2 separate regions of the Homo sapiens genome follow, and region 2 is linked to region 1. The links come from fine-mapping of genetic effects on gene expression. A gene starts in region 1. The other region holds a variant in brackets. All regions are shown on one strand. Distances are between the middles of the regions. Region 1 holds the start of ARF3 (ARF GTPase 3). Region 2 has its middle 3.3 kb from the start of DRC2.

Region 1 (2,907 bases):
GCATGTGAATATGTGATACATGGGAGCCTTTCCTGGCTGAATCCAAGGTCAATCATTCATTCGGTGAAAAGCTGAACCTTAATGGATTAGTTTCTTTCTTAGAATGAACTTTTACAGACATGTTTTTCAAACTCAAGTCCAATGGGCTATGATAATCCACTGTCCCATAACACTGTCCCATGTCCCAAGTCACGGCAAGTGGAAACACCTACCCCAACAACAAGCCCAAGACAAAATAGCAGCAAAGACTGTTACTACCTACCTGATTGAGGACAGGGAAGGAGGTATGCAGCGACTAGATTCTGTCCTGTTGCACTGACCCAAGCAATCAGACTCTTGCAGCAGATCTCCTCCCAATAAAACTTTCATGCCATAGACCAGGGGTGACCCAATCCAACAACAGCAGAGACAGGTTTTAGGTTACATTTCTCCCTCACCGGGACGGCCTTACTATTTCTTCTCACTCCTGACCACATACCACAATCCTCCACCTCCACCACCACATTCCTCCTGGCCTGGAAAGATGGAGACCCGCCTTAATGCAATCAAGACGGGAATTCCCCCAAAATAACAGCTACCACTTTGCTAATCAAGTGGCCCGTTTTAACAGGGAACTCCACCTCCCCAACTCCCGCCCCTTCCCTCAAACGATTCGCGTAAGCAATGGCTCCATTTTCTGTTCCGGGAATCCTGGTACTTCCTAAAGAAAGAAAGCGGATTGGAAGACACAAACTGAGGGCCAGTGACAAGATGCTCCCTCCTCCTGTGAGACCGCCCCCGCTCCGCCTGGGGAGGAAGGCCCCACCTCTCTTCTCCCAGGAAGATCAGATCCCCCTCCTCCTTCTCCTGCCTCCTCTCCACCCTCTCCCCACTTGCTGCCCTCTTCCCAACCTGCGGTTCCCTAGACTCGAAAGCGCAACCTCTACCACAATAGCGCCCATGTGGTGCCCCAGCAGCCTGCCCTGTTGGCTAACCCCCAACCCCCCTACGCACCCCTGCCCTATGATGGGGGAGGGGGTGTAACCACAGCAAGGCTTCTCTCCCGTCTCCTATTGCTAAGGTGGGGGAGGGAGAGGGAGTAGAAGAAAGCAGCATTCCCTAGCCCTTTAACAGAAAAGATACAAACAGCCATCACCGCCCCCTCATCACCTCTCCTCGGACGGTTTTCCTCTCCCTCAACAGCACACCTCCTGCAGGCGACAACCTAACTGCAGCCCAGGTCGCCCCCTTGAGCGAGGCGGAGGACAAATCCGTGTGCGCCCCCCACCCCCACCCCAGCTCTGCGTCCTTCAAATGCGGGGGCAGGCGTGAAGCTGGCCCGACGCACCCTCTCTGAGCTCTCGGGTGGGAAGAATCCCACCGCCCCACGCCAAGCAGTGCCGGGCGGGGCCCGGGAGGCGCTCTATCTCCTCAGCCCTCACCCTGACCGAGCCTCTTCTCTACCGGGACCCGCCTTCCCTTCCCAGCCTCTCACCTGTTCCTGCTATCAGCTGCGCCGCTGCGGCCGCCGCCTCTGCCCCGCAGGTTCCGCTCCGCTCCCTCTGGCTCCCCAAGCCGACTTCAGCCCGGCTGCTGCCCTGGCCCACTCCCCGGCTCCCTCCTTCCTTCCCTCCACCTAGCACCGGAAGCCGCGACGGCGACTGGAGCTGTGCGGCGTACCCCCACCCCCAGCCCGGGATACTTCCCACCTCCCCGATCGCGCGATAGCTGCGCGGTAGCTAGCGGCAGTTCTCGCGAGACCCATCACCATGGCAGCGGCTGCAGCACCGGCGGCCGGGCGCTGGAGCTGGAGTCAGGGCGGGGGCAGGTGTGGGGGCTGTGGGCGGCGGAGGCGGGAGCCGTGAATGGGGATGAGACAGTGAGGACTGAGGTGACAATCCCAAGCTCCAGGGTTGTGCCTGGAATTTAAGGACTGAGGCGGCAAGTTGGCTGCGTAGGAGACGGGCTGGGCTGCGGGGCCCAGGGGCTCCTTGGGCAAAGCCAGCATCGGGATATGGGTGAACAGTCGTTGCTGTGGCATGCCTTACCCAGCCAGACTTCATCTTTATTTCTTAATCTGGGCTAGCTGCCATCCCCTGAAAGCCCTCACCGCACCATTGTTGTTGCTCACTATTCCTGAGACTAGATTACTGTGGGGTCTGAATCAAGAGATCCTTTCCCATAAGGAAGAGGAAGGAGAGTGATGAACTTAAGAGGCTAAAGGAAAACAGCTGGACTCTGAGCCAGTTAAGTTGGAACTTGAAAGACGGAGAGTGGAAACCTAATATTCAGAAGTGTGGTTTGAGGAAGTGTGCCTAGATGAGTAGGGATTTTAGTATCCCAAGGAAAGGTGAAGGACTTTGCACCCATATTTCTTGCTTCCTACCCACTCCTACTTCCCTCACACTCCGTTTTGCACCTGGTCTAGACATGCAGAACTGCCTTGAAACAAAAATAGCTGTGATAGAAGGGCACTAGTAATGCTAAGAACAGAAGGTTCCTTTTTTTTTTTTTTTTTTTGAGACAAGAGTCTCACTCTGTCGCCCAGGCTGGAGTGCAATGGCACCATCTTGGCTCACTGCAACCTCTGCCTCCCGGGTTCAAGCGATTCTCCTGCCTCAGCCTCCTGAGTAGCTGGGATTACAGGCGTGAGCCACCGCGCCCGGCCAATAGAAGGTTCTCTAAGTGCCCTCTCTCCTCATTTACAGCAGTATAAGGGAATGAACACATGGCTCTTCCCTAAGGCTTGAGCCCAAATTGTTGCTCTTATGAATTTATTGCCTTGGTTGATTTTGTTTGTTTGTTTCCTTGCTTCCAAGAAGAACTAAGCTGGGGCCAGGCCCTGTGTTCACACTTGTAATCCCAGCACTTTGGCAGGCTGAAGTGGGCAGATCACTTAAGGTCAGGAGTTTGAGACCATCCTGGCCA
Region 2 (2,907 bases), 56 kb before region 1:
CAGGAGGCTGAAGCAGGAGAATCGCTTGCACCCAGGAGACCAAGGTTGCAGTGAGCTGAGATTGCACCATTGCACTTCAGCCTGGGTGATAGAGTGAGACTCCGTCAAAAAAAAAAAAAAAAGAAAAAGAAAAATTGGAATATTACTTCACAATGGAGGTAAGTATGAGCATATCAAGGAGATTCCTTGATATACTAAGGAAGATTCCTTAGGTCATCTCAGTATTACTGTGACCTGTGATTAAGGTCAATGGAAAACTAGAACAAAACAATCCAGGACTACTAATGGCCCAGACCCTTCAGAAATGAAGCTTTGAGTCAGTCCATCAGGTAAAGAAACAGGTCAACACCTGTTAAGGTGCTTGCTGAAGGCAAAGGGAATAGGATAGTAGTAGAAAACGGTAGCTATTAATACCAGCTATGACCACGTGACCAGTTATGGACCCTAGGACTATGATTGCCATGAGTATTTCCTCATTTTGTTATTTATATGTTTATGTGTGTGTATATCAAGCAAATATCTTCATTTTCTTTTCTCTTTTATTCCCTCATAATGTAACATAAGATGTATTAACTTTATGTCATAGTTTTAAGTATTATTAATTTTGCATCATAATATCTGAGTTATGGGATATGAAGAAGAGTAAACATCACTCAAGGATTTTACCTCCTCTTCTGAGGAAGGGATTAGTGTTTTATTTTTCTTTTTGAGACCGGGTCTTGCTCTGTCACCCAGGCTGGGGTGCAGCATCAATGCAAAGCTTCGAAATGCAGGCTCAAGTGTTCCTCCCACCCCAGCCTCCTGAGTAGCTGGGACTACAGGTGTGTGCCACCATGCCCAGCTAATTTTTTTTTTTTTTTGAGACAGAGTCTTGCTCTGTCGCCAAACTGCAGTGCAGTGGCACAATCTCTGGCTCACTGCAACCTCCGCCTCCCGGGTTCCAGCAATTCTCCTGCCTTAGCCTCCAGAGTAGCTGGGACTACAGGCGTGTGCCACCACGCCCAGCTCATTTTTATATTTTTATGAGGGGTTTCACCATGTTTGCCAGGATGGTCTCGATCTCTTCACCTCGTGATCCGCCCGCCTCGGCCTCCCAAAGTGCTGGGATTATAGGCGTTAGTCACTGCGCC[C/T]GGCCTGTAATGGTTAATTTTATGTGTCAACCTCACTGAGCCACGGAGGGCCCAGACATTTGGTCAAACATTAATCTGGAGGTCAGGCACAGTAGCTTGTGCCTGTAATCCCAGCACTTTGGTTGGCTGAGGTAGGAGGATCGCTTGAAGCCAGGAATTTAAGACCGGCCAGGGCATCATAGCAAGACCCAGTCGCTACAAAAAAATTAAAATAAAAAAAAATAGTTGGCTGGGCACGGTGGCTCACGCCTGTAATCCCAGCACTTTGGGAGGCCAAGGTGGGTGGATCACCTGAGGTTAGGAGTTCCAGGAGTTCGAGACCAGCTGGCCAACATGGTGAAACCCCGTCTCTACTAAAAATACAAAAATTAGCTAGGCGTGGTGGTGGATGCCTGTAATCTCAGCTACTCCGGAGGCTGAGTCAGGAGAATTGCTGAAACCTGCGAGGCGGAGGTTGCAGTGAGCCAAGATCATGCCATTGCACTCCAGCCCAGGCTGACAACAGCAACAGCAAGACTATGACTAAAAAAAAAAAAAAACACTGAGTATGGTGGTGCACACCTGTAGTCCCAGCTACTCAGAAGGCTGAGGTGGGAGGATCCCTAAAGTCCAGGAGTTCGAGGTTGCACTGAGCTACAATTGCATCACTGTACTCCAGCCTGGGTGACAAAATGAGTTTTCTGTCTAAAGAAAAATAAACAAAAAAAAATTATTCTGGTTTTGTCTGTGAGGGTGTTTCCAGATGAGATTAATATTTGAATTGGATTGAGAATTAATTAGTGGTAGATTGAGTAAAGCAGATTGCCCTTGTAACATGGGTGAGCCTCATCCAATCATTGAAGACATGAATAAACCAAAAAGGCTGAGTAAAAGCAGCTCCTCCTGACTAACTGCCTAAGCTGAGGCAGTCTTTTCTGGCCTTCTGACTCAGACTGAAACTCAGACTCTTCTTGGACCTTGAGCTGGCTGGCTTTTAGTCTAGAACTACACATCGGTTCTCCTAAATCTCCAGGTTGCTAATTGCAGATCTTGGGACTTCTGAGCCTCCAATAATAACACCGATTGCTTATAATAAATAAATACACACATCCTATTGGTTCTGTTTTTCTGGAGAGTTCTGAGTAATGTATTATATTTCATATTTAAAACAACTTTATTGGGGCACATGTTGCATATCACATAATTCGCTTTTTTTTTTTTTTTTTAAATACGGAGTTTCGCTCTTGTTGCCCAGGCTGGAGTGCAATGGCACGATCTCAGCTCACCGCAACCTCCGCCTCCTGGGTCCAAGCGATTCTCCTGCCTCAGCCTCCTGAGTAGCTGGGATTACAGGCATGTGCCACCACGCCCAGCTAATTTTGTCTTTTTAGTAGCGATGGGGTTTCTCCATGTTGGTCAGGCTGGTCCCGAACTCCCGACCTTAGGTGATCCAACATGGTGAAACCCCATCTCTACTAAAAATACAAAAAATTAGCCGGGTGTGGTAGCGGGTGCCTGTAATCCCAGCTACTTGGGAAGCTGAGGCAGGAGAATCACTTGAACCTGGGAGGTGCAGGTTGCAGTGAGCCGAGACTGTGCCACCTCACTCCAGCCTGGGCAACAGAGAAAGACTCAGTCAAAAAAGGAGAGAGAGAGGGAGAGGGAGAGAGAAAGAGAGAAAGAAAGGAAGGGAAGGGAAGGGAGAAGAAAAGAAAGTAATCTACTTTCTGTCTTTATAGCTTGGCCTTTTCCGGATATTTCATATAAATGGAACCATACAATATGTAATCACTTGTGT

Evidence for each region. PIP is the estimated chance that this variant, and not a neighbour inherited with it, causes the effect.
Region 2: its variant is fine-mapped to the expression of ARF3 in whole blood (TOPMed, PIP 0.95).

Annotation. Positions count from the first base shown.
Region 1 is chr12:48,955,836-48,958,742 of GRCh38, forward strand. ARF3 (ARF GTPase 3) reads right to left here and starts at 1,652. Exons shown (of 5, transcript NM_001659.3): 1 at 1,475-1,652. RefSeq lists enhancers at 1-844, 900-979.
Region 2 is chr12:48,899,413-48,902,319 of GRCh38, forward strand. No RefSeq gene overlaps it. Among named protein-coding and RNA genes, the nearest start is that of DRC2, 3.3 kb to the right of the region's middle. RefSeq lists a silencer at 2,000-2,200. The variant C/T (reference allele first, on the strand shown) is at 1,131.